Homo sapiens: one gene and its partners. The protein of the gene in region 4 interacts with the protein of the main gene of each other region in a biochemical or structural test. Each region holds a gene or a part of one and is shown on either strand. Other genes may lie near its edges. The genes, in order: RGL4, RALGDS, RGS14 and RAP1A.

The links.
Region 1: the proteins of RAP1A (region 4) and RGL4 form a complex in vitro, tested with the Homo sapiens proteins (one study listed by BioGRID).
Region 2: the proteins of RAP1A (region 4) and RALGDS form a complex in vitro, tested with the Homo sapiens proteins (one study listed by BioGRID).
Region 3: the proteins of RAP1A (region 4) and RGS14 form a complex in vitro, tested with the Homo sapiens proteins (one study listed by BioGRID).

The regions. Positions count from the first base shown.
Region 1 is NC_000022.11:23,686,914-23,694,043, forward strand, and holds the start of RGL4 (ral-GDS-related protein), read left to right. Parts: upstream 1-4,099; 5' UTR 4,100-5,117; coding exon 5,118-5,296; intron 5,297-5,421; coding exon 5,422-5,615; intron 5,616-5,755; coding exon 5,756-6,078; intron 6,079-6,845; coding exon 6,846-7,061; intron 7,062-7,130.
Region 2 is NC_000009.12:133,097,223-133,104,258, forward strand, and holds the end of RALGDS (ral guanine nucleotide dissociation stimulator), read right to left. Parts: intron 6,612-7,036; coding exon 6,525-6,611; intron 6,041-6,524; coding exon 6,008-6,040; intron 5,679-6,007; coding exon 5,557-5,678; intron 5,350-5,556; coding exon 5,254-5,349; intron 4,918-5,253; coding exon 4,716-4,917; intron 4,541-4,715; coding exon 4,298-4,540; intron 3,161-4,297; coding exon 3,046-3,160; intron 1,541-3,045; coding exon 1,365-1,540; 3' UTR 500-1,364; downstream 1-499. UniProt on the Homo sapiens protein: Functions as a guanine nucleotide exchange factor (GEF) activating either RalA or RalB GTPases and plays an important role in intracellular transport. Interacts and acts as an effector molecule for R-Ras, H-Ras, K-Ras, and Rap.
Region 3 is NC_000005.10:177,367,897-177,373,105, reverse strand, and holds the end of RGS14 (regulator of G-protein signaling 14), read right to left. Parts: intron 4,950-5,209; coding exon 4,840-4,949; intron 4,390-4,839; coding exon 4,186-4,389; intron 2,519-4,185; coding exon of another isoform or gene 2,516-2,518; coding exon 2,442-2,515; intron 2,202-2,441; coding exon 2,075-2,201; intron 1,942-2,074; coding exon 1,860-1,941; intron 1,757-1,859; coding exon 1,710-1,756; intron 1,632-1,709; coding exon 1,517-1,631; intron 1,234-1,516; coding exon 1,031-1,233; 3' UTR 510-1,030; downstream 1-509.
Region 4 is NC_000001.11:111,615,091-111,622,788, reverse strand, and holds the start of RAP1A (ras-related protein Rap-1A precursor), read right to left. Parts: upstream 3,001-7,698; 5' UTR 2,855-3,000; exon of another isoform or gene 2,391-2,854; intron 1-2,390. UniProt on the Homo sapiens protein: Counteracts the mitogenic function of Ras, at least partly because it can interact with Ras GAPs and RAF in a competitive manner. Together with ITGB1BP1, regulates KRIT1 localization to microtubules and membranes.

The DNA of each region.
Region 1 (7,130 bases), on a different chromosome or scaffold from region 4:
TGGGCAGCTGATCTCTCCGGTTTGCTGGGCTCTCACCCTCTGCCCAATGGCACCAAGTTAACTTCTTCGCATGCTTTATTTTCTGTGATTAAAAAGGGAAACAATTCTCACTAACGCCATTTCTCAGAGGAGAAAACAGGCACAGGGATGTTCTATGACTTCCTCACGATCACCAAGCTACAAGGGGGAGCTGGGCTTTGAATGGAGGTCTACCCATGCTCCTAAAGTTGAGGCGTCCTCCAAGGAAAGGACAGCACCTATAAAAGCTCAATGAATGGGGCGGCAGTGTCACCACTAAGCCCGACCACGCTGCTACTCTGATATCCAACTTCCAGCCTCCAGAACAGGGAGAAATACAGTTCTGTTTTTGATGAGCTCCCCAGGCCGTTACAGCTCTTTCTTTGCTGTAACAGCCTGAACTAGCCCAGAAGTGCTATTCCATCATCTGTGTCATATTCCATCATTCAGAAGGGAGTCACTAACCCCTCAGTGCTGTCTCTGTGGACGCTGCCCACCCTAGGCTGAGATGAGGCACAGGGTCTGGGTCTAAATAAAATGGGAAGGCACTGGAAGGTGCAATGTCATAGGAGGAGGATGTCTGAATTTCATTTAATCTCAACCTCTACTGGTGCAGCATGAAAGATGAGGCCCAGAGCAAAAGTGTCTTTTCCCGAGATCACACTGTGGACCCCAGGCCCACTGGAGTTGCATTAGACGTTACCTCTCACCCCTTCTTGTATTTGTTCCATTTCTAAGTGTGTGCAATATCCACAGGGAACACCACACCATGAGTTTTTAAATATTTATCTCAAACATAACCTCATGAGTTCCCTAGGAAAGAGATGCTAGCATAACCCCCATTGTGCATGCTGGGGAGACCCCAAAACACCAAAGGAGTTCTCTAGGGTCTCACAACTGCTAAAATAAAGGCTGTTTGACCCAGCACTGTCTCCTCAAACCTGGGACCCTGGTTATATCCAGGTCTTCCCAAGGTGCTGAAGGGGCACACTTTTTCATAATGGTGACTACGTAAGGAGTTGACGGGGGAGGGTGAGCGGTCAGAAGCCCAGAGGGGCCTTTGAGTAGGACTTATGGAAAGGAGGAGCTTACAGGATGGAACCTACAAGATGTGACCTCACTTCCTTGCCGACAGACCCCCAACAGAACTTACAATTCTGGTAACTAGGCACCCACATTCTAGAGACAGCCCCATTTCCAGCTCACTTCGTAGGCGATGCTCGAGAGAACAACATGTTCTCCTGCTGTATCCCGACATGCTGCCGACCTCCTCGTCGCACAAGAGGCCAAAATGAGAGTCTTTCCCGAGAATATAGACATTGGTTCAACCCTCACCCTCGACGCCTCTGGCCCTTTGCCAGAAGGCACCCACAGGTAACACAGGGCCCAGGGCAGGCCCATCCAGGCTAGGCCTCAGCTGTGCCCATCAGGGCAGCCTCAGGCCCCTCCCCACTTGTTTGGGGGAAACAGGAGATGAGGGGCCCTCCCTGGATAGGAGCAGGTAGGTTGTCAGGTGTTTGGAGCCTGGTAGGTATGTCAGGTTCACAGCCCAGGCAGTGCCTGGCAGGATGGGAAGGTGAGTGTCAAGGACACAGTTTGTCTGCTCAGATCTGAATCCCAAGTCCTCAAGCTGTCATCTGCCGGAGACCTCAGGCTTCTCTGGCTGGAGGTCTATGCAGATGCTCCTATGTGCCAAATCCTGTTGGGGAAGGGGGTGCCAGGGATGAGTTCTAATGGGGGTGTCCCACTGTGGGGTCAGCCAGACAGGCCACTGACACCTCTTGGCCCGGCTCTCGGGCACTCTCTTTGCAGAGCTCCACACAACAGACCAAACAAGAGCTGTTGGATGGATTCAATTTCTCCATATTCTTCAAAGGGCACGTGCACCACACCACCAACCACGTCCAGTGCCGGTCTGCGGTGAGATTGGGCACAGAAGGGTCTCCACAGACAGGACTTGTGAAAACCAAGGTGGGCCCAGGACTCAGACACGAATATGGGGACTCCCTAAGCTCCATCCTAGGGCGTTCCCACTTGAGTGACCCACTGTCCTCTCCCAAAGGAATCTGGCTGCCATTAGTCCCCAGTGGCAACTTGGTTACAGGCAAAGTCCCTTTCACCTATCAGAGGAAGACCAGAGAAAATCCTTCTGTTTTCACTTTAGGCTATGCCAGGAGTATCTCGGCATGTTGCTTTAAGAATTGAGTACAATGGTAACATTGCAGCAAAATACTCACACTGTTATCATTTTAACTCCCCACCCTAAGTGGATCTCCGGCAACAGGCAGGCAGCTCCGCTGCCCTGCCAGACCTCCTCCAGGACTTAAAATCCAACACTTTTGCACAAACAAGGGGTGGGGGTGGGGGGGGTGCATTGATTACAACAAAAGAAGGTGAAGCGACTCTATGCATTAGTCTTTAAAGTGTCATCTCACAGAACTCATCCCTGCAGCCCCATCAGGCAGGAGTTGTACCCTCGCATGTCATTGTAACATTCCTTAAGGGAGGCCATTTTCCACAGCGGGTCAGCCTCTCAGTGCTGGTGGAGCCTGTCATGATAAAATTCCCTTTCGAGGCAGCCTTTCTACAAGGAGCATAATCCTATGCGTGTCCTAATAGGCTGGAGCAGTTTGCCAGGGCTGCCATAACACGGCACCCTGACTGAAGGGCTTAACCACAGAAATCTGGTTCCTCACAATTCTGGAGACTGGAAGTCCAACGTCAAACTGTCAGCCTGGGGTGGTTTCTCTGGGCCTCTCTCCTTGCCTTGGAGATGGCGGACTTCTATCTCAGTCAGCACAGGGTCTTCTCTTGAACTTCTCTGTGCGCTGACCCCCTCTCCTTGTAAGAACCCCAGGCATGTTAAATTAGGGGCCACCCTAATGAACTCACTTCACCTGAATTACCTCTTGGAGTACTCTGTGTCCAGACACAGTCACATTCTGAGTCTCTGGGGTTGAGAATAGAAACAGTTACATTTGGGGAAGGGGACACAATTCAACCCATAAAATAAACAAATCCCCTGCAGCAGACAGACACCCAGGAAAGGGATATCTGGGTGAAAGGATATGCAGATATCAACTTTCAACAGCTCTAGCTAGTTGACTTTCCAAAAGGGCTCCAGCTGGTCACACGGTCACCAGCAGCCTCTGAAGGTAGCTGCTTCTCTGAACGCAGCCTCCCCTGAATACTAACACGCTTTTAACTTTTCGCCAACCTGCTGTCTGTGTGGCAGAGAAAATCCTTGTTTCATTTCCACTTTCAAACATACATTTGCGTAACCTTTCACGGGTTCAATACCTGCCTGCGTTTTCCCCAAGTCGCCTCGCAGATCCTGGGCCTTGGGACGCGCTTCCTCCCACCCTGGAGTCTTCCGGCATTTTCCCCTTGGCCAGGGCTGGGATGGCCGTAGCTGTTTCTCCAGACTCACGTTCATGTTAAAGGAACAAAAACAATCATATACCTTTAAGTCAAAGAGTTCTTCTAGAGCGTATTGTCCTGTGTGCTGTTGCTGAAATGAGGAGGGGATGAGGCCTCCCCAGGCCTTGAGGACTTGCAGGGATGATGCTCTTCATGCAGGTTGCTGACACAGAGGGTGCTGTTGCCCCACAGCTGACAAACACCGGGACGATGCCTTGAAGGCAGGAATCGTTTTATCATTCTCCATCCTCACATGCAATGTTACTTTGAAAGCCTAGAACGCTTTTCACCATGGGCACCCAGGTTCTCCATATGCACAAGTCCCTGAAGGGTTGGTGCTTCTTGGTGTGAGTTCCAGATCCCGATCCTCTGGTGGTCCATGGTGTTACCACTGACTCCCATGTCCCTCCTTGTCCCCCTAGTATGAAAATGAGATCTGCAGGATGCTAACTTTCCAGCCCGGCACTGGGGAGAAGCTGTTGGGAGTCCCTGGTTCCAGCCTTTCTAACTAAACCCATCTCCTCCTATGCCACCTGCCTGGGCCCCTCCTGGGACTTTATCACTGTGCCACACTTTTTGGAACTACTGGTTAGAAGGTGAGTGTCCATCCCCCTCCAAGACACAGAGGTGCCTCTGTCCCCTACTGGCTCTGTCTTGAAGATGCACCTCTCGGAGCCTCGGTTGGCTCCTCTGGAACAGGGAGTAGTGAGAAGACGAACCTCACAGGGTTCTTGTAGGGACTCAATGATCTAAGACACAGCAAACAAAGGGGTCCCTAGAGCCTAAAACTCTGGAAAATCTGCTGGGGGTGCTGTGATTCATGTTTGTTACTTTTCTCTTCCCCCTCACTTGAAGCAGCTCTCAGCATTCTGCCTCAATGGCCTGTATCACTCACTGTTTGGAAAAACACATAGAAACCAAGTCTGCGATGGCACTGGTAAAGGATGTCTGAGATTCCTTCTGGCTGGTCTTTCTCCTTGACACAGACAGAAGAGGGGTCCCTTGGTGCTGAAAAAGGAGCCACAGGCCCACTCAGACATCTGGAGAGGCTCACTGGGGTTCTCCAAAGGTTGGGGTTCACTCATTCAACACATACATTCAAAACACCTCATTTGTGCATCGCTCTTCTTGGGGCTTGGCATAATTTCATAAACAAAGCAGATGACAATCCCCCGGCCTTGATTCTACTCAGAGTCAGGCACTCACAGTAGACAGAATAAACAAGTCATATCTACAGAATGTTACAGGTGAGACCCTCATGGCCTCCTCTACGTATGGTGGCATCCTCCCAGATTCTGACTAGAATGACGCAGCCCAGCAACAAATATAAACTGGGTGGATTTAGGGTTCTGAAGGGCCTTTTCACCCACAAAACATGGGGGAAAATATGTGGACTCTGGCTGGGGAGAGACTAAAGGAGCTCTGGGGCTCATACTTCTTATAATTCCCACGAGAAGGCTGACATCTGGGGACTTCCCCCACAAGAGGCAAATAGTGAGTTCTGTAAATGGAGACTTAGGTCCCCTGCAAAGCAGAGGGGAGGCTGGGGTCACAGCTGGCCACTGAGAGACCCATCCCCCTCAGCACCGTGGCTTCCCAGCTCTCCCTGTCCTCCTCCCCCCGACATCTGCCCCTTCCCTCCTAACCCCAGGACCAGGGGACCCAGATCTGGAGCTTTGATGAGGAAGCTGCTCACAAATCTGCCTGCAGCTGCAGTCTTGAGTGCCCAGGTGTACAGTGCTGTGCTCCAGGGCCTTTGGGAAGAGAATGTCTGTGGGACGCCAGGGCGCACGAGGGTCTGTACAGCCCTGCTGTATGGCCAGGTCTGCCCCTTCCAGGACAGCACTGATGGCTTACGGTAGGGTGGGGCTGTCCTCCACACTGGCAGCAACAGGCCAGGGACCCAGAACCACGCAGGGGTGCCCTGGAGGGTTGTGTGGGAGAAGGCCAGGCCTCTGACTCAGCTGTCTACTCCATCACCAGCACCATCACCTCCATTTTGTTCAACTGGCCCCCCGAAAACACTTCAGTTTACTATCAGCCCCCGCAACGGTCATCTTTCCGGATAAAGCTGGCCTTCAGGAACCTCTCCTGGCCTGGACTGGGCTTGGAGGACCATCAGGAAATTGTCCTAGGCCAGTTGGTGCTTCCGGAGCCCAACGAGGCCAAGCCAGATGGTGAGGGGGCTTGCAGTCTGCAAGACTTTCCGGGGGTGGTGTTTTGGGGCTACAATTCCCTTAAATTCCACCCGGTCATTTCTGTGCTTGGAAAACCCAGTGAAAAATGACTGGTGTGGTGACCTTTTCTCCTTTTCCAGATCCTGCTCCACGTCCTGGGCAACACGCATTAACAATGCCGGCCCTGGAGCCAGCACCACCACTGCTGGCGGACCTGGGGCCTGCTCTGGAGCCAGAGTCACCTGCAGCCCTGGGTCCACCAGGATATCTACATTCAGCACCAGGGCCAGCACCAGCACCAGGGGAAGGGCCCCCTCCAGGGACAGTGCTGGAGCCACAGTCAGCCCCAGAGTCCTCCTGTCCCTGTCGTGGGTCTGTAAAGAACCAACCCAGTGAGGAGCTGCCTGACATGACGACCTTCCCTCCCAGGCTGCTGGCAGAGCAGCTGACCCTCATGGATGCGGTGAGCAGCTGAGCTTTGCAGGCTGTGTCTCTGGCACCAGCTGTCTCAGACCAGCCTCTCCCTGAGGAGCAGCCAATGCCCTCGGTCCAATTTCAGCCCCACTTCTTACCAACCGTGGGATCTGGATGAGTTTCCTCACCCACAAGCCTTCCCTGTCTGCATGTGGACGGCAGAGATGGGACATCACCAGCGCCAGCTGCACAGAGTGACTGTGCAGACTGAGTGACAGGAGATGGACAGAAAGCAGGGCAGGGCAGGTGCTCACTGTGGGGCAGGCAGGGCCATGGGTCACTCACCCAGCTGCTCAGGAGCCTCACTACCCTCAGCACTTATTAGGTACCTGATGCATACTGGATTCTATGGTAGACACCCAAACAGAGCCCATAGTTGCAGCTGCCACAAGGAAAGTGCACCGGTACGGAGAGGAGTAGTAGAGGGCTGATTGGGATGGGAGGAAGACGAGGCCTCAGGATGGGCAGGCCTGAGCCACCTTCTAGTTCTTAGAGTGTGGATGGCCTGGGAGAAAATGTCACTCTCTCTTCCCACCCTTGTTGGGTTCTAGGCCATGATGCATTCAGGTCCCTCGGGGGCAGAAAACCAAACCCAGGGACTCCCACAAGTCTGGAGCCCATTTTAAAGCTTTCTGAGCTCCAGCTTGGTTCCTGCCAGAGACCGTGGATGACTGTGAGCTCAGTCCCTGCCTGGGACTGTGGGTGACTCTGAGCTGCAGTGTGCTGTGTCCGTGACACTCTCCTCCTCCCCCAAAGGAGCTGTTCAAGAAGGTGGTGCTCCACGAATGCTTGGGCTGCATCTGGGGCCAAGGACATCTGAAGGGGAATGAGCACATGGCACCCACAGTTCGTGCCACCATCGCACACTTCAACAGGCTCACCAACTGCATCACCACCTCCTGCCTCGGGGACCACAGCATGAGGGCCCGGGACAGGGCCAGGGTGGTGGAGCACTGGATCAAGGTGGCCAGGGTAAGCTATGGTTGGGCCTGGGGATTCCCTCTTTAAAAATGGGGAACTTCCTCTTCTCCTCCATCGGCT
Region 2 (7,036 bases), on a different chromosome or scaffold from region 4:
CCCGAATAGCTGGGATTAAAGGTGCCTGGCACCATGCCTGGCTAATTTTTTTTATTTTTAGTAGAGATGGGGTTTCACCATGTTAGCCAGGATGGTCTCGATCTCCTGACCTCATGATCCACCTGCCTTGGCCTCCCAAAGTGCTGGGATTACAGGCATGAGCCACCACGCCTGGCCACAAATGTTACTTTTAAAGACAGCTAAATTTCAGAAATTCTTGCTATGCCTTGTGAAAGTACCTCCAAACTCTAGTCCCAGGAGTTCTGAGGGCTGTCTCAGCACATTTCCCAGTTTAATGGTGCCAAAAGGAACATCTGCTGTATGAAAGGTAAACTTTTGTGTTTCCTTCAGTGTGCTGAGAAGAGTGGCTGGCTTTTCCTGTGCATAAAATAACTGGATAACCCTGCAAGGGTCCTTACTTAAACACGGAATGTGAGAGTCTCTATCTCATTTTAATTAAGACAGGTAATGAAAGAACAAAACTGTAATGACCAGGGTATAGTAGAAACAGGATTTTAATATAATATTCAAGTCTAGCATTTGCTATTTACAACAAATAAATATTGCCCCTCCCCAATCAGTAAACAAACATTTTTTTTTTCTTTTTGCTTTTTATACAAATATTCAATCACCCCACCCCCACCCCAAATCCTCCTTCCTCACTAACCCCCGTCTTGCATGGTCTCGTAAAGCCCAGGACGCAGTGGTGAATGGCACTTGCAGTGGCATGAGATTCAACATCGATGGGACTCAGCTGGGACTGTCCTCACTCACCGGGTGCAGAGTCTGGTCCATGAAGAGGGTTTCTCTCTCTGCTCCCAGGGGAGGGCTGGGGTAAGCGGTGGGTGAGACTCCCTCACTCTCAGTTGGCCCTGATGATGGAATCTTTGGTGCAGCCTGAGAAAGGCTAGAGTGGTGGGAGGGGCCGGGACCCCTGCGAAGGTCACAGGCCAGTGCCTGTGGGCATGAGAGAACTGCAGTGGTCACAGTGGGTGCTCTGGGGTGCCCATGGGCACAGGTGGCAGTGACCCACACCTGGGAAGGTGTCAGGGAAGTGTACAGAGGTGGCGCCCGGGGGCAGGCAGGGCACCATGCCATGCCCGTTGGCACTGCTCCTTGGCAAAAGTCAGCTAGTCCTCTGGTTCCAGAGAGCAGAAGGCACCTAAGGCAGCGAGTGGTCCACGGGAGGCCAGGTCAGCCTGACCAATGGCAGGCGTCAATCCCAGCAGCGGGAGAGGTTCAGGATGAAACTGGAGTCTGGGGTACCCTGGGCTGGCAGGTGGGAGGAAGGCGCCCAGCTGGCCTGGGCCACTCTGGTCCATAAGTGCTTGGCTACCAGCCAGCCAGACCCTGGGAGGATGCCCTCAGAAGATGCCCTTGGCAATCTTGAGTCCTTTCTGCTTCATGCGAGGGAGGGTGGAGCTGGCTCCGTGCTTGACCTTCACTCCCTTGGTGAAGGTCCGCTTCTTGAGGACAAAGTCATAGTTGGCGGTAGAGTTCATGGCATAGAAGACGTTGGCGTTTTCAGGGATCTTCAGCTCTGGTGGGGAGGGGCAGAGGGGTGATCAGGGATGCTCCTGGGGGCCCTGCAGGATACCCCTACCGCTTGAGAGCCCATACAAGGACTGTCTTGAGCCACAGACCTCAGATCCCCTCCAATACAGCTCCAGAACTCCAAGGACCCCTCTCAATGACTCCTGCCTGAGGACAGACTCTGCTGAGGTCCTCACAAAACCTGATGACTCTTGTTTAAACAGGGACTGACTCCAGAACCCCCCGGCTTGGCCTGAGCTGGCAGAGGGTCACCCCGTCCTGCCCATACTGCAGTGCTGGCTGCCCACCTGGAACAGGCTTTCTAGAATCCAGGTCACCTCCCAGAATCCTGCCCTACTCAGGACAAGGGATCCAAGGACCAGGAAAGGACAGGCCTGCCCCAGGGCTCTGGCGCCCGTTCCAGGGAGGCCTGTACTCCTTGAACCCTGGCACCCGGCAAGCACTTCCTTTTGGCTCCATTTCCCACCATCTCCTCTGGCCCACAGCCTGCTATAAACCAGAGCTGGGCTCGATTTGTGCTCCTGCCGACATCGTGTGGCTTTTCGTCATCTTTAACCTCTCTAGGCCTCAGTCTTCCTTTTCTGTAAGATGGGGGTCCCGCCTACCCTGCCCACCTAACCGAAATGGTGCAAGAAGCTGCCAGAGGATTTAGACTGTAACTTCTAGGGATCACAGGAGTCATTGCTTACTGTCTGGGCTAATGGTGGGAGGTGGTGTTCAGCTCACTGGAAAGAAAACAGCGATGATAGTATTTATAGTTAACTTTTATGGTGCACATAGATGCTTTATATATACATGCATATATATACACACACATATACATGCATATATATACACACACATATACATGCATATATATACACATATATACATACATATACACATATATACATACATATAGATTTTTACATATATGATGAACACACTGGCTACTTTCATTTCCATTTGGGGGATGAGAAGACAAGCACAGAGGGCTTAAGGAGCTTGCCCAGCGTCTCCAGGCCCAGGATACCCCACTCTGAGCCTGCACTGGTTCTTGACACTTTCCCAGTTTCTAGAATACTGAGTTGGCCTCCTAGTAGCCTGTTCTGCTTTTAGAATCACACACTCATGGATTTTAACACTTGACACTTTGGTCCACAGCTGTCACCATTCTTTGTAGAGCACATGTTTTCTTGTCTTAGCCAGAAAGAGTCCCTTCCAGTGGGCCACGTGGCTAACCTGTCCCAGTGAAAAATGCCTTTTCTCTTTGCTCCTCACTGATGTGAGCTTTGAACTGCCTGTTCACGCCTAGGGAAGGGCACACACTGGGGAGGTCCAGTGGTTGCTGGGGACAGCAAGCAGACAATGGGGGCAGCCAGGGCTGCCCTGTCCACAGTGTCTACCCACACTCTGCTGGTGAATTTTCTGGGGCCAAAGGCTTCCAACCTGGGGCTGGGGAGTGGTGTGGACCTGCCCCCTCTGCCATCGCCCTCTGGTCTTCTGACTTACTCCGGTCATCTGAGAGAATCTGCAGCAGCTCATAGTCCTCCGGCTCCTCCTCCTCCAGGTTGTGTTTGTCCATGGCCTTGCGGATTACAGCCGGAGCCTTATCTTGGCTGGTCACCTGCATCGCGGCGGGGGATGGACCATCAGGGAAAAGACCCTGGAGCGGCTCCCCCAGAGTGCAGTGGCCAAGGACCCTCTGGAGTCCCCTCAGCACCAAGCACAGGCACTCACAGCCTCTGGCCAGGTGCTGGGTCCGGAGAGGGCCTTGTCACATTCTCCTACTCCCCAAGTGAGGCCTCCGTCCTTCTGTTCCCCATGTGAGGCCTCCATGGAATGAGGAGGGGTCTGTCCCAGCAGTGCCTACCCTGCTTCTCCTGTAAGAGACTGTTCCCTCCTCCCACACTTCCTTGAGAAGCACTTGCCCCTCCAGGATAACAGCATCACTGAGCCTGGGGAACAGACAGTCCCTAGTCCAAGCCCTGGAGGTAAGAAAGGAGGGGCCGGCCAGGATGCTCAGTGTGGTCAGCATAGGCCAGGCCCCTGCTACCTTGACCCTGAGGGCCAGAGCACAGGCGGAACTCGGACATAGGGCCACAGGTGACTGCTTAATGACAACCATGCTAGCTCCTGGCAATGAGGGGTCAGGAGCGTGTGTGAATAATGGGGCACCTGACCCAGGGCTGGGGTACAGAGGGTGGGGGTTACAAATGGTTCATCTGTCGCAGGACACCTGGAGGATGAAGAAAGAGCCCCCAGGCAAACCCATTCTGTGAGCAATTCCCATCTGCTGTCTCCAAATCCTGTCTAGACTCTGACCCTGCTGGCCCCTTCCAGGGCTCCCAGCCTGGTTGCCACAGCGGCCTCCTAACCAACACCCCTGCGGCTCTGGTACCAGCCCACACCAGACAGAGAAGCCAGCCATCATTGCTCCTGTCTTCCTCCCCGAGAAAGTCGAGGTCCTGGCAGGGCTCAGGGCCTATGTGGCCAGGCCCTGGATACTTCCCTGACCTCACCTCCCCTACAGCACCGCCCCTTCAGCTCCTGGGGGCTTTGCACGGCTGCTCCTTTCCTCCCCCTCTGCCCTCAGGCCAGCCTTGTCCCTGATCACTACCTTCTTCATTTCTGTACCTGGCTGACATCTGTCCTTCCCCGCCAACTACAAGGTAGACCCCGGGAGGGCAGGGATGGTGCACTGTGTTCAGGGTGCATTTGCCGCCAGTGGAGGGAGGCACCCAGGCCACCCCCGCCGGCTTACCAGGATGCTCTTGTACATGTTGCCATTGTCCACGTCCAGGCTGACGCGGATGATACAGCAGTCGCCCACCTGCTGGTTGTAGAGCGGCAGCGCGGAGCTGGAGTTGCAGAGCCCTGAGACAGAGCGCTTGTGGGTGCGTGTGGCAGCCACGGGCGTGGTGGAGGCTGAGGAGGACGAGGTGCTGCTGGAGGCTGAGCTGATGCCGGAGGTCTCCGGGGATGACTGTGAGGCTGATTCCCAGAACTGAGGGAGACGGTAAGATCAGCAGATCCCACTGCCCTGTGGGGGCACCCCAGGCCAGCTGCCAGATGGGGAACCTTCTAGAAGCTGTGTTCAGGATCCAGGGCTTCCTGGCCCCATGCATGGATTTGGAGTGGGGAGATGGGAAAGGATATTGGGGAGAAGGGCAGGCAGTCACCTTCTTTTCCTGGCCATCAGGAGACTCCGGGACGAAGCTGATGTTGATCTCCTCCACGTCGGAGCTAGAGGAGCCGGCCGAGTGCACGCTGAGCGCGTCAGCGATGTCCCCGCTGCTGAGGTAGGGGCCACACCTGAGCTGGTCACAGGACTTGGAGTGGGAGCTGCCACTGGTACTGAGCTCAGTGCTGGGGGCCTGGCGGCTGGGTGAAGAGTTGGCTTAGTTAAGGGGGCTCCCCAAGGACACATCCCAACCCCACAGCCCCTGCACCCTGCGCCCAAGGACTGTGCAAAGTGCTGGGACAGTTGCCAGTACTCCATTCACCACAGCCATCTGGGAGAGCATTTAGTATCACCCCATTTCACAGAGGAGGAAACTGAGGCCCAAAAAGGTGAGGGGACTCATCCCAGTCTCAGGGCCAGTCAGCAGCAGGGTAGGATTCCAGGGCCAGCCTCCCTGACTCCCTGAGCCCAGGCTCAGCCCTGAAGCTTCTGAGCCCCAAGGCAGCTGCCCCTACCACCCTTGGCCAGGCCCTTACTCGCTCCAGCGCTTGACAATGGCTGTGTTCTTCTTGGTCCTGAGGGTGTTGCTGGCTGACTCGGATGGGGGCTCCAGCTCGCACGACAGGTTGTAGCTATGAGCAGAGGGGCAGTGGTGTGACAACCAGGGGCCATGCTCCGGCCTTCCCCCAGCACCTGCCCAGAAGCTGGAGTCGGGGTGCCCCGGCCATCCTCAGGCAACAGGGGCTGAGGCTGACCATGGGTCATAGCTGCTGGCCCTCTGGAGCTGGCCCCCTAGGACAGCCTGCCCCCACTGTCCCCATTTGCTGCCCCGGCCTCACCTCTCAGTCTCGCTGAGCCGCTCCACGGCCCGGAACCAGGCCCCAAATTGCTCATCTGGCGCGATGCTGTAGTTGTTGCAGGCCGACTGCAGCAGCTTGATCTGGGCGATCACCTCGAACTCCTGGGGCCAGAGGGAAGCACAGGGCGGTGACAAGGCCCCCCGGGCAGCACAGGGGCCAGTCTCTGGGTCTTTGTTCTTGGGGTCCCTTCCTCCCCTCTACTCCCATCCAGGCCTTCCTGTTCTCAAAGTTGGGCTCAGCCACTCCCCAGGAGGTGGTCCTGGATTATAACCTCCTACCCTCACCCTCCAGTGGGAGGGGACCCCCTTCTCTCTGTGTCCAAATGTCCCATGTCCCATGAATCTAAGGAGAGGGTAGGAGTTGAAATGTCCTACCCTGGTGGGTCTGTTTTCCACCCCTCCCCAAGTCAGGGCTGCCTGCAGCTGCTTACCTTCCTCCTCTTCTCAAAGTTGATGAGTCTGCCCTGGAAGGTGGACACCCAATGGCCGTCAGAAAGTGACCCCTTGACCATTACAGTCTCCCCACCTCATGCTGCACTATCAAGAGTGCCCACCAGGGGGCAGGGCACGCACACCCCTGGATTGAAGCCGGTGCTGGGCACCAGGGCAAGGGGACATGCGGGCAGAGGCTTGGGGACTTCTTGTCCAGCACTCTCGGAGGACAATGGACTGAGGCCTTGGGTGAGAAGGCCCTGCTCAGCCACCACGTGCCGCCTGACCGCTGAGGGCCTGGCTTCCCTCTGTGCTCAGGGTCACTGCCTGAGGGATGGGCTGTGTCCCACTCAGCCAAACCCTGCTGCAGCTCTGTGTTTGGGCAGCCCTGGGGTGTCACCAGCAGGGCACTGAGCTGTTTACTCATTGCTGGGACAGGTGTGGCAGCCCAGCCCCCAGGGCTCAGGGAAGGTCTCTCCTCCCGGGCCCTACTCCAGCCCCGCCCGGCACACTCACATACAGATAGTCCTTCATGGCAGTGTCCAGCATCACCAGGTCGGTGAGGAACGTGCCCAGGTAGGGAACGGTGCCCTGGATGATGCCCTGTGACATTGGGGTAGGAGGATGAGCAAGGCCCCTCCCCTGAAGGCTTTCTCAGCCCCCAGCCCCAACTGGTCTCACTTGGAACAGCTGGGGGACCTCTGGGGGCCTCCTGGGGCCCACTGTCTCCCTGGACCCCAGACTCCCTCTAGCCATCTCCCTGGCTGGCATCTGGGAAATGCCAGGTTCCCAAGTCGTGTGGCCCCTGGCCCTCCCCAGCCCCACACCCGCCTGAGCCGGCTCTGCCAGGCCTGTCCTTTCGTGGCTGCAGCTGGTCTTCCCAGATACCAGCTGATCCAGGTGTGGCTCTGCTAGGGTCCAGAGGAGGCTACCTCTAATGGGGCCCATAGGCACCGTGGCTAGAGAGGAAAGGGCCCTCCTCCCTACCCCCAGGCCAGCCCCCTGCCCCTCCGCGGCCTTGGGCACTC
Region 3 (5,209 bases), on a different chromosome or scaffold from region 4:
TCCACACCATGACAGGTCTCACTCTGTCATCCAGGCTGGAGTGCGGTGGCACGATCTCGGCTCACTGCAACCTTCGCCTTCCGGGCTCAAGTGATCCTCTTCCACCTGTCTCCCAAGTAGCTGGGACCACAGGCATGCACCACCACACCCAGGTAATTTTTTGTATTTTTGGTAGAGACAGAGTTTTGACATGTTGCCCAGACTGGTCTCAAACTCCTGAGCTCAAGCGATCCACCCCCACCCCCCTTGGTCTCCCAAAGTGCTGGGATTACAGGTGTGAGCCACCTCACCCAGCTCCCATATTCTTAAAAAAAAAAATACTATAAGATATTCACACACCACCCCATATACTGTGCAGTCAGGAAGAGAGGTTCTGAAAACAGGAAGTCAGGAGGCACATCCTGAGGTCCCCAAGAGTTTCCTGGCACTGACCTTGGTGACAGAAGTAGTGTGTTTTGAGGGTGGGGGAAGCCACAGGACAGTCTGGCACACAAGGAAGACAACTCATGGCAGAATAATAATAATTATTATAATAACAGTATCATACATCAAGGACAAACCCAGCTGCCCCAAGCCTACTGCAAAATCTGTATGTACAGTATAGTCTATGTGGGTGGGGTACAGGGCTGCCTGCCTGCACCCTCAAGGCCTTACTCATACCAGCTTCCTGAGGAGGGGCCGGCCCCTCCTCTTGCCCCTGTTGAAGCTTGGCACAGGCTGGGGAGGCTGGCACTGCCAACGCCATCCCTCCATGTTGGGCAAGCCTGTTCCAAGGGGCTGGACTCACCTCCCCCATTGTGGCCTGGCTGCAAGGGATTGGGGGTGAGCTTGTTGAGGGACAAGGCGGTGGCAGCTGTGGGGTGTGTCTCATCTGAGTCCCCTTTCCACCCCTACCGGCTCTTCCTGCGGGCCTGCCCATGGCAGGAAGGGGCCAGGGACACTCATGGCACAGACAGGGCATGCAGAGCGGACCCATGGCATGCTCGGCCCGCCGGGTGCCATGCAGCTGTCCTGGACTGTTGGGTAGCTGTCAGAGGGCTGAGTCGGTGGTGGAGTTCAAGGATCCCCCGATGGGCTGGGCTGCTGATTTGGTCTGTGGTGGGGTCTCCTCGGAGCTGGGCCCTTGGGCGGGCAGCTGCAGAAATTCTGGAAGTACCAGGTCCTCTTTCCTCAGAAGGCCCCTCTGGTCGTGGGCCCCGCTGCTCTGCACCCGGTTCAGCAGCTCCACCAGGCCTGGAGGCAAGCCACAGCATGAGGGTCCCCCCAGCAGACCTGCCTATATGCCAGCCCACGATAGTCCCACTGCCTTACTGTGGCCACTGCCTCCCTGGCCCCAGCACCAATGGCCTGCGGCCCCCTGTTCCAGCCCCTTTGACCCCCCAACCCCCATCCTTCCTGTTCCACGCCCAGTGGCACCCAGCCCCCTGCCTTAGCTCAAGGCTCTCTGATGCCACCCTGAATGGTCCCCAACCCCACTGCCCTAGTCTTTCTGATCCCCAGCTCATCCACCATGTACCTTCGATGTCACAGGTCTGCCGCTTTCCAGTGGCACTACTGGGCACCTTCACCAGAGAACTGGGGGACGCTGGAGGGGGATGGGTGGCCTTATCCTGAGTTCTAGGTGGGCAGCCCTGCGAGAATTTGGGGTCAGAGCCAAAATCGGGAGGGGAGAAGCAGAGGGTGGAAGAGGCCACTCGCCTTTCGCTCACCTGGCTGCGGCAGGGAGATTTGTCACGGGCTTTGGAGATCTTCACACCTGCAGCAGAGAGGGCCACAGTTAGTGTTTGCCTCCCACCTGGACCCCCTTCCTCCTGGGCCACAGCTGTTCCAGATCAAGCCCCGAGGCCAGCGTCCCCTACCTGGAAGAGTGTCCAAAACCAGTCTCTGGGCCGCCACCGAGCTCACTAGCTTCCCCAGATCCAGAGGCTGTTTCTCGCCTGGCTGTGGGGAGAGGTCAGCAGCCCGCGGTACAGGCCTCCGCCCGGCCCCGGCCCCGGCCCCGGCCCCGGCCCCGGCCCCGGCCCCGGCCCCGGCCCGGCCCCGCCCCGCCCCGCCCCGCGGCCCGGAAGCTCACCCGGTGCAGCACCACCTCTAGCGGGCTCAAGCCGTGCTTCTCCAGAATGGGCTGCAGCGCCTCCTGCAGCCGCTTGGTGGGCTTGGCTGAGATTCGTACCACGCGCTCCAGCGCCGTCAGCTCCAGCCTGCGAGGAACCCTCGGGCAGCAGAGGGCCGGAGGGCCGGCCCCCCGCCAAACCCTTCCCAGGACAAACGCGAGGGGGTGGAGCTTGAACTGCAGAAGGTGGGACTGGCTTGTAGGGGGCGGGGTTTGTCCCAGGGGCGGGGCTAGCACGAGGGGCGGGGCCTGGGGAGCCAGGTAGCTAGAACAGGGCCTGAAGGGAGCGTCAGGACCTGGGACCCAGACTTGGGGGCAGGACACTCACTCGAAGGTGATCCTGTTTTCCAGCCGCACTTCCTGATCCGCCAGCACGGTGCAGTCCTGATCCAGGACCAGGGCCTTCTGTGGATGCCAGGCAGGGTCTAAGAGTCCCTCCCCCAACCCCCAGCCATCCCTGTGGGTCTGAGAACAACTTCACGCCCTCCCATGGCCACCACTGGGCTTCCTAGAGGAAGGGATGGAGGGTGGAAGAGCTGTAGGGGAGCAAATGGGTTAAGGTACCAAGCTGGAGTCCAAGCCCAGGAAAGCCAAGGCCAGGGAGAAAAGTGGCAAGAATGCTGGACATTCTTGGGAAAGGACAGAAATTACGAGAAACGTAGCTGCTGGCATGAAATGATAAGGGGCAGGCCTAGATCCGGGATCTCTGGCCTACTCTTTCTGTGCCAGGACAGGCTCTGCCTCCAGGACAGCTGTCTCGTGTCCCTCAGGTGTGTGAAATCCGACCAGACCAGCTGGAAGCATTTCCTCCCTCACCACCCACCTTTGACCAACCACCCTGGCCTGGTCCCATTTTTGACATTTGTCCACTTCTCTCCATTCCCCGCTACTAAGGACACTTCTTGTTTCCTCATTCAAAAAGGGCCCACCCTCAAAACTGCTGTGAAACCAGAGGATGTGAAGCATCTGGCACAATGCCTGGCACACAGTAGGTACATAAACAGTAACTCTCGTGATGACCACCTTCAGAGGCCCCACTGCCTGCTCCAGCCTGATGTGGGGGTTGGGGGCAGCATCTCCCAGGCAGTAGGCTTATGCTGTGCTGCAGGAGCAGGTGGAGTGTGGGTGAGGAAGTTATATTTAGCATGTATGAAAGCCCATCTGGGCTGCTGGCAGCCGCCCTAGCGGCCTGAGAAGAGTGGGCAAAATGCCTCCCACTACTGCCCTCGCACCCCTGCACTCCAGGCCCCTGAACATGCCCCGCAAGTACCCACCTGCAGGCCTTTGCCTAAGCTGTTCCCTCTGCCTGGAATATCCTCCCCCACAGCTCTGCCCATCCACATCTACTGCTGCTTCTTCCATGAAGCCTTCCGGACACCAGCCAGAAATGCCTACCCTCTCCCAAGAGACCTTCTCTGGAGTTTTCACTCTTCCTCCTCCCTGATCACTCCCTGCTTGGCTTACTTTCAGCCTGTGGGCCAGGAGGACAGCCCCAGATCTAGGTTCCTCTCCCCCACACACCTGGCAAGGCCTTAGGACTTGTCTACTAGGTAAATGAAATCCCGATGGCCCCCTGGAAGGTAGCATTCTTCCTTGAGATTCCCCTGACTGAATGGTTTCCTTTAAAGCCAGTTTTCCCCTAGGTCTTCTTTAAAGTTTAAGCTAGTTTGCACCTAAAGGAAAAAGTTCATTGGTTAGGTGCACTTGGGTGCCCCTAGAGGCTAAGGAGGTGAGGGCACCCCACGGATGGCCATTTCCAGGATGGGTCTGTGGGGATGGGAGTCTGGACTCTGGGAATGATGAGGGGCAAACCCCAGCTCCAACAGTGGTTCTCTCCAGTTTTACCTCCCTAAGGTCACCACAATAGGATGATGGATGAAGGTGGAAACCTGGAAGGACATGAGGTGGGGGGTGGGTGGATGTCTGAGTGAGTGAAAGTTGGTGCTGAGGGTGCTTTGGAGTTGGGTTTAGAACTTGAATTGGGGTTGGAGCCATGACTGAGCAGAGACAGAAATGGAGTTGGGGTCAGGATCAGGAAGGAGGTTAGAGTTGGAGCCAGGTCACGTTCCCACCTGTTCATTGCCCACCAGGTAGACCTTGATGTCAGGTAGAGAGAGGCCTCGTTTCTCACAGATCCCTGCCAGCATGTCTCGGATGGTGAGGCCAGGTCTGGCCAGGGCCAAGGAGGCTGTGCCATCGGGCAGGTACACACAGCAGTACTTCCCTGGCCGGCTTTCACTTTCACCCTCCGTGCTCCCAAGGCTCTTCCGGTGGCTCTGATTCATGGCAGGAGTGGGGGAGATTATGTGTACACATGCAAGGGCATGCACACAGGTACACAGAGATAGGTAAGCTTGCTGGGGCTCAAGCATGCACACGCACTCCCAAGGCAGGCAAAGATACGTCCTCCTGCAGGAACACATGTATGCACACCCAGGCATATGGGCACCTAGAGACGGGTCCACCCGCTGATTCCCACACACGTGCTGTGTATACACACCTGGGTGCTGCACATGTGCACACATTTGCCAACTGAGGATGTGTACCCATGACATATATGGGGACCAATGTAGTGAGACAAGTAAGGAGGCTGAAGGGTTGGCTACGCAGAGCAAGCTGGGAGACGCAGTAAGGACAGCAACTTGGAATGAGGGCCACCACGTAAATGGGCCTGAGTAGTGACTCTAGCCCATAGAGCATCTTGTCTTCCCCAACAGTCGGCTCACCTCAGATTTGCTGCTGACGAAGGCTAGGAAGCCAAGGTCCAGGCTGGCGGAGGAGTTGAGGGAGCCCTGAGACTCTCGGCGCAAGGCGGCGTTTGCAGTCCCGCCCAGCTCTAGTGAAGAGGGAGCGATGAACGCGAACAGCCCCCCGCCCTCACCCATCCTCTGCGGAAGCCTGTTCCCCACTGGTGGGCCTTGTTTGGAGCCATCCTGCAGGGGCCCAGGTGTAAATCCCTGGGAGCGACACCACCGTTGGAGATTTCCAAACGTCTGAGGTCTAGCCCAAGACCCGAACCACCCAGGGGAGTGTGGTGGTCACTGGGACCTGGGTTTCAATTTTCACAGACTTACAGACTGTGGGCCACGTAGGAGG
Region 4 (7,698 bases):
TCCTGTAGTTAAATGTTGAAGAGAGGTAAGCTAACATCCAAAATTTAAATGTGAGCTATTGAAAAATTCAACTTAACAATCTGAAAGTTATCTTTTTATGACTGACATTATTTTTTAAATGTTAAACAATAATGTCCAATGCAAGTATACAAGCGACATTACCATGGAATGTTTGTCAACAACTGTGGCTGTCAAAATCAGTATAACCTAGTCTTAAGAGTATAAGGTAGGGTGAGAGGATAGAAACAGTGGCAGGGAAGGGTAGTAAGGGAAGACCTGAGACTGGTGCAGAGACCTGAAGAAGTGAGGGATATATACTGCCTTGGGGAAAAAGGTTACAGGCAGAGAGGACATTAAGTGCAGACACCTCAGTGTATTTGACCTTTTTGGGATGTAGGAGGCCAGTGTGGCTGGAGTACAGTAAGCAAGAGGAAAAGTAAAGGGGCTTGAGATTAGGGAAATAGCTGGGCAGCTGTAAGGCTTGTAGGCCATGGTAAGAACTTTGGATTCTACTGTGAATGAGATGGGAAAACACTGGAGGGTTTTGAATAGAAGAGAGACTTGTTCTGAAGTTTGTGAGCATCATTGTAGCTGCTGTGTGGAAATCAACTTGGGGTGGAGGGGCAAGAGTGGAAGCTGGAAGATCAATTAGGAGATTAATAATCTTCACTTCTAACCTTTTTCAGTGATTGCAAAATTGTGTATCTTTCTGCTGTTGGGCAAGTAGTTTCCTTTTCTTCCCATCTATTAAAATAATTAAATGAACATGTGCATATACAACATTTTCTTTCTTTTGGAATATTTCCTTGGGATTCATTTTCAGAAGGACTACAGGAACAACGTATATGAATATACCTGTCTTCTGGGGTATATTAAGTGTAGATACTGTCCTTCTTGAAGCCATACAAAAAGTGAACAAAGGCTTTTGAGCTGTTTTAATATGGAACTGTGTAACACTGAGGGATTCCATCCAGTTCACTTCTAAGACATAAGTTCATGGTTGGCCTCAGAGGGTCCCTAAAACTAATGCAAAATTTTGTGAATAAATGCCTATTAACTTTATTCTGGGGAGAGAGTTTATATATTTCATCATATTCTCAAAGGTGTCAGTGGCCTAGAAAAGGTTAAGAATTACTATCTTACAAACTGGAAATGGACTGCAGTATCCTAATATAGGGTACCTCTCAAAAGGACAGAAGATTTAATAACTAGACTCATCTTTGTAATCATTCAATTCATTCAACAAATACTTAACACGTATGATCCTCAATACCTAACAGCTAATCGTATCTGAAGTAGGCCATAATTTAAAACACCAAGAAAACTAGACAGGATTCACTGAAATATCACGCTACAAAAGAATATCGAACTATATGATTTCAAAACAACAATGTTATAGGAAAGCATAATAAAGACAGAAAGTCTGGGGCCTAATTTAATGCTTATTATGTCAAAGTATCACAGAAATAAATTACATCACAAGGAAAGAAAAACTACACATAGGCATGTCCACCCCCACACATTCTGACAGGAAACCCAAAGAAAGTTTCCAAATCCTGTTTCCAGCAGCATCTCTTCTGAGACGGCCCTTCATGCTTTTGAAGGTAGGAGCCCCAAGTTAAATCTAAGAGCTGATACTTTATTCTTACTGTAATCAAAACAAAAACATCATCCGCCACCTAAGAAGAGTGGCTGGCTACCTGTAGGGCTGTGGCTCATTGACCTTCTGCTCTATTATTCTATTTCATTTCTTATACCTCCTCCCTTCAAAGAAGTAACAAAATGATTTTCCCTCCCAAAACAGAATGCATTACTCCTCAATGGCAGTTCTTTTTCCAAGAGGTCAAAGGTTCCCTAAACTCTGGTTCTCAGCCCTAAGAGGAGATCCCATTTTGTAGGCACAAATGTCTTCCTCTCATCTTCTCCCCGTAGCAGTAAATTACACAACTCGGCTGAAGACACCGTCCTTAACTTCCTGATTAAGGGGGCAAGAGATACTCTTACCAAGCCGCTAGTTTGAAGGATAACAAGAATCACACCGTGACCTCTTCCCTAACAAAATTCAGGGAAGAAGCAGAGACCCATGAAAAGTAACACTGAAAAGGCGAACACATGGTAAGCTACGGAAGACATGAGGGTAAAGAAGGCGGGAAAGGGGCTGGAAGGTGGAGTGGGATGTAGATGTCAGCCCTATTAACTGGGGGAATAAAGGAAGGAAAGGGAGACCCTGAACCCTGACAGAAGTGAGCCCGGAGACAGCAATGCTCCAGTCTACCCGCACTCCTACAGCAGAGGACAGAGAATTCACCCAACCCTCCAACCCCGTTCCCCGTGTGTCCCTCCCCCCCGCCCCCGCGGGCCCAAAAGGGAGAGCTGGGTTTGAAGGAAGCTCTGACCCTAGACAGGGGACATGCAAGAGGAGGAAGGCAGCGATGTCCAACCTTCTACTTCTCTCAGGCAGTGAGGTACGAGGGCACCGTGTCTGGGGAGACGGCGAGGGAAATGGGCTTGTGCTATGACACCTCGGGGAGCTGAAGGGTGGGGGACACAATGTCCTCTTTCTCTCCCACAGCCGGCCGGGGCCCCTCCCGACGGTCTCCCGCAGGCCTACAGTCGACCGGGTCGGTCCGCGGGCGTGGTTGGCTCTGGCCCTGGCGGCGGCCGGGCCTCCCAGATCTCCGGCCCCTCCCGCCGGCCAGGCCCCCGGGCCGCCGCCCCGACACCGATGGAACGCGGAGGAGGAAGGGGGAGCCAGGCGACTGACCGGCGACATGAGCCGCCTCACCCTCGGCTCGGCCGACCCGCGCCCCCCGCTCCCTCTGGGGCCGTCTGGAGCTCCCCGCCCCTTACTCACCCCCCCGGTCCGGCGCCTCCTCCACCTCCTCCACCTCCTCCACCTCCTCCTCCTCCTCCTCCCTCCTCTCGGCCGTGGCTCCTGCTCCGGCTCTGCGCGGCGACAGCAGCGGGAGCGGCGGCGGCAGGGGCCTCGGGAGCGGCGGCGGCGCCTCCTCCAGAACGCGCACGCACGCACCACGCAGGCCCCGCCCCCTGGTTCTGCCCCGCCCCTCCAAGTTGGCGATGGCTGGGCTTCGGCCCCGCCTTCCCCACGGCGTTCCGGAGTCCGCTTAAAGGAGCCGCGCACACTGGAGCCGGGAAAGCCTGGAGCTACCGGGAAGGGGCGGGGAGTTTTAGCTTTGCGTAGGGCGGGATGGGAGGTGGGTAAGACCGGAAAAAAGATGAGGAAGGGTCCAAAGATTCAAGAAGAGAATTTGGAGGGAACTCAATCATTCGACAAGCCCTAATTGAGCACCTGTTAGGTTCCAGGCGCTGTTCTAACTAAGCGCAGAGGTTTAAAGTCATAGACAGGCAAAGACCCTCTTGCAGCTTGCATGCTGGTGGAGTGAGAGAGGGGAGACAGACAACAAACAAGTGACAAAAATTGCAGGTAGTGATAAGTGGTGTGGAGAAAAATAAAGCAGAGGATAGGGTGACTTTACACCTGGTGAGATACTGCCTCTCAAAGAAGACCTTTGAGCGCATACACACGGGATGAAGGAATAAGTCTTGCAAACACGCGGGCCTGGAGGAGGAATAGCCTTTCCAAGCTGAGAGAAAATCAGCCATAAACCCAGAGGTGGGGATACGCCTGCCATGTTGCAGAAACAGTGAAAGGCCGGCATGGCTGAGCAGCGTCAGCCAGCCCGAGAGCAGTACCAGCTAGGCTTGGCCAGATCCAGTGAAGCCTGTGGGCCATTATAACAGGAACGGGAAACCATGAGAGAAGGGTGAGCCGAGGAATGACCGCATCTGATTCATGTTGTTAAAAGTTAGTCTTGCTGATGTGTGTAAAATACACAATGGAGAAGCACAGATGTCCTTGGGATACCAGTAAGGTAGCTTGGACTAACTAGCCTGGCAGCCACGGACAGGATGAGAAGAAGGCTATTTTATTTTATTTTATTTTATTTAGATACATTTTGATTGGAATGGATTTGGATTTGGGGCATAGTGTGTGAAAGAACAAAAAGAAATCAAGAGTTGATTCTTAGGTTCGGGCCTGATGACTGAGTTAATGGCGGTGCCACTTAATGAAATGGAGGAGCAGATTTGGGGATGGGGAAATCAAGAGTCTTTTCTTACACATGTTATGTTTAAGGTGTCTGTTATACATCCAAATGGAGATATTGAATAAACAATCGATATATGAGTCTAGAGAGATACATTTGGGATTCATTAGCAAATAGATACTTTTTAAGTCTTAAGTCTAGTTAGGATCACATGGGGAGGGGAGATAGCTGAAGGAAAGGACCAAGAGGCACTCCAACACTTGAAGGTTAAGTAGAAAAGGAGGCGCTACCAGTCAGGGCAGGAGAAACACCAAGAGAAGGTGAAGCGTTGGAAAACAAGATAATTGTTTCAGGAAGGAGAGAGTGAAGAGTCTTATCAGATACTGCTGAAATTAGTAAGATAAGGACTGAGAATTTGAACACTGGATGTGGCCTGATGAAGTTGCTGATGACCTTGATGAAAACAGTTTCAGTGGAGTCATAGGGGAGAAAGTCTGATTAGGGTATGTTAATAGGATGGGAGGTGAGGAAGAGAAAGTGTTCTAAACAGCTCTTGAGAGGCTTTGCTTTGAAGGAGAAAAGGGCAGTAGCCAGAGAGGTACTTGAGATCAAGGGAGGATATTTTAAGATGAGAAATGCTTTTTCTCATTTTAGTATGCTGGAATGATTTTTTTTTTTTTGAGGCGGAGTCTTGCTCTGTTGCTAGGCTGGAGTGCAGTGGTGTGATCTCCGCTCACTGCAACCTCCAACTCCCTGGTTCGAGCGATTCTCCTGTCTCAGCCTCCAAAGCAGCTGGGATTACAGTCATGTGCCACCACACCTGGCTAATTTTGTGTTTTTATTAGAGACGGGGTTTCTCCACGTTGGCCAGGCTGGTCTCGAATTCCCAACCTCAGGTGATCCACCCGCCTCGGCCTCCCAAAGTGTTGGGATTACAGGTGTGAGCCACTGCGCCCAGCTGGAATGATTCTTTAGAGAGGTAAAATTGGGCCAGGCGTGGTGGCTCACACCTGTAATCCCAGCACTTTGGGAGGCCAAGGCGGGTGGATCACGAGGTCAGGAGATCGAGACCATCCTGGCTAACACGGTGAAACCCCATCTCTACTAAAAATACAAAAAAAATTAGCCAGGCGTGGTGGCAGGCGCCTGTAGTCCCAGCTACTCAGGAGGCTGAGGCAGGAGAATGGCATGAACCTGGAAGGCGGAACTTGCAGTGAGCCGAGATCGCGCCACTGCACTCCAGCCTGGGCAACAGAGCGAGACTCTGTAAGAGAGGTAAAATTGATGACACAGAAGGCAAGAGGAGACAACTGGAGAAAGAGTGTCCTCAAATAGGTGAGAAGCAATTGGATCTAGCACAGAAGTGAAAGGGTTGGCCTAGGATAGGAGTAAGGGAATGCATTCACACACTGTTTCTGGAGAGAAGGTAGAGTGTCTGGGTGCAGAAGCAGATAGATTAGACAGTACATTTGGTTGTGGCACGCTCAGGCCCCTGTAGAGCAGAGGCGGCAGGTAGGAGCTGAAATGTAGCCCTTGTTTTGCCCACAAAGCCACGTGCCCTGGTGGGGTCACATCAGCCTGGAGGAAGGGGTACTTTTCTGATTGCTCCACCAGGAGAGGTGGTGCATGTTAGCATCCTGCATATAACACACACACATGCGCAAACACACACACATGCGCATACACACACATGCATACCCACACACACACGTATGGACCTTTTCCCAGTTTCCACTGAGTGCCATATGTACTGGCTGCCTCACTGGGATTGATGAGGTAAGATCTGTTCTCTATGCAATGAAAAGCTGTTGGCTATTAAAGGAGATAGAAGAAGGTGAGAAATAATCTCCTTGAAGAGTGGAAAAGTGACTAGAGAAGCTTAGCATGGACAGTGCTGAGGGCCCTCTTGAGTTGATGATCATACATTAAAGTGAGACCACTCAGCAAGGCCGTGTGATTCTCCTCCAGCCACACTCCATTGCTTGGGGGTTGGAGGAGAATTGTATTTGACCAGGTCTGAGTTTTGCTGGGGAAAGCCTATGAGAGGGGTAGGAGTATTATGTAAGGGAGTGATTATAGTGATAGACCTTGGAATTTAAGCTGGGAGGGAAGACAGGGCAAGTAAAAAGTGGTAGAGTCAATGGTTTGCTGTGGTCCCTGTGAGAAGTAGTTTGAGAGGAAGTAATCAAACAAGTGAGGCCAAGGGGACTTTCCAAAAGTTGAGCATGGGGAAGGGTGAGTAAGGCGGTTAGGGGACAGGAAGCACAAAGCATCTGTGAGAAAAAGGTTCAAGCTGGCTCCAAGGAGCTAAGGAAACAGCAAAGCCCTTGGGCTTCTGTCCTCATCACGGTATATGTGAACCATTGGTTTGGAGAGGTTGAGGAACTGGATTGCCCACTCATAATCTTCAGGGAGCTGCACAAACAGGAGAAACTGAGTGCAGGAGGAGATAAACCAATTAAATCCTCCCAGGGCTCCTTTACAAGCTTTGGGAGAACCCAATGGGCACTTTGCTTTCCCTGCCCTTTCCTTTCACCAGGGATATCTGATGATTTGGGTAGACACTTTATCTGGCCTAGTATTTGACAGAAACTAAACACCTTTCTTCCTAAATCCAGCTCCTCCTCTTCCTGACTTCCTCTTTTCTGTTCATGGCACTACCTTTCTCAGTCACTCAGCTGCCAAACCGAAGCCTCCTTTAATCCATCTTCCTCATTCTATGCCTAATTAGTCCCTAAAGCATAGTGAGCTGCACTGTTCAATAAACATTGCACTGTGATGGAAATGTTCTTTATCTGCATAGTCCAAAACAGGAGTTACATATGGCTATTGAGCACTTTAAATGCAGCTAATGCAACTGAGGAAGTAAATTTTTTTTTTTTTTTTTTTTTTGAGACAGAGTCTCACTCTGTCACCAGGCTGGAGTGCAGTGGCACGGTCTTGGCTCACTGCAACCTCCACCTCCCAGGTTCAAGCGATTCTCCTGCTTCAGCCTCCCGAGTAGCTGGGACTACAGGCACAGGCCACCACGGCCAGCTAATTTTTTTATTTTTAGTAGAGGCGGGGTTTCACCATGTTGGCCAGGATGGTCTCAATCTCCTGACCTCATGATCTGCCTGCCTCAGCCTCCCAAAGTGCTGGGATTACAGGCGTGAGCCACCACGCCTGGCCTGAATTTTAAATCCTATTTAATTTTAATTAAAGTTGCATTTAAAGAGCCTTAATTAGGAGCTGCTATATTGGACTGCACAGGTATAAATACTATACTTTCTACACAATGGCCCTTCCAGCTGCCCCCACCTCTCTAGCTCTATTGCCACGACCCTAGGTCAGGTATTGGTTAACCTAGGTCGAGACTTTTGCTGTGATCTCCTGTTTGGTCTCCTGCTTGGTTGCCTTCCCTTCAGTCCGTCTTGTGTTCTTGCCAAAACCATCTTCCTGAAGCATTGTCCAGATCATGACTCCACCCTATTTTAAAAACTATCAGTAGTTCCCCATCAAATTTAGTACAAACTGCTCAATCTGGCACTTGCCCAATTGTGTATCTCCATCCCACTTTTCTAGCCTTACCTTTCACTATACCCTTACATGTATATCAAACTACTTGCTGTAACTCCTACTAACTTTTTAC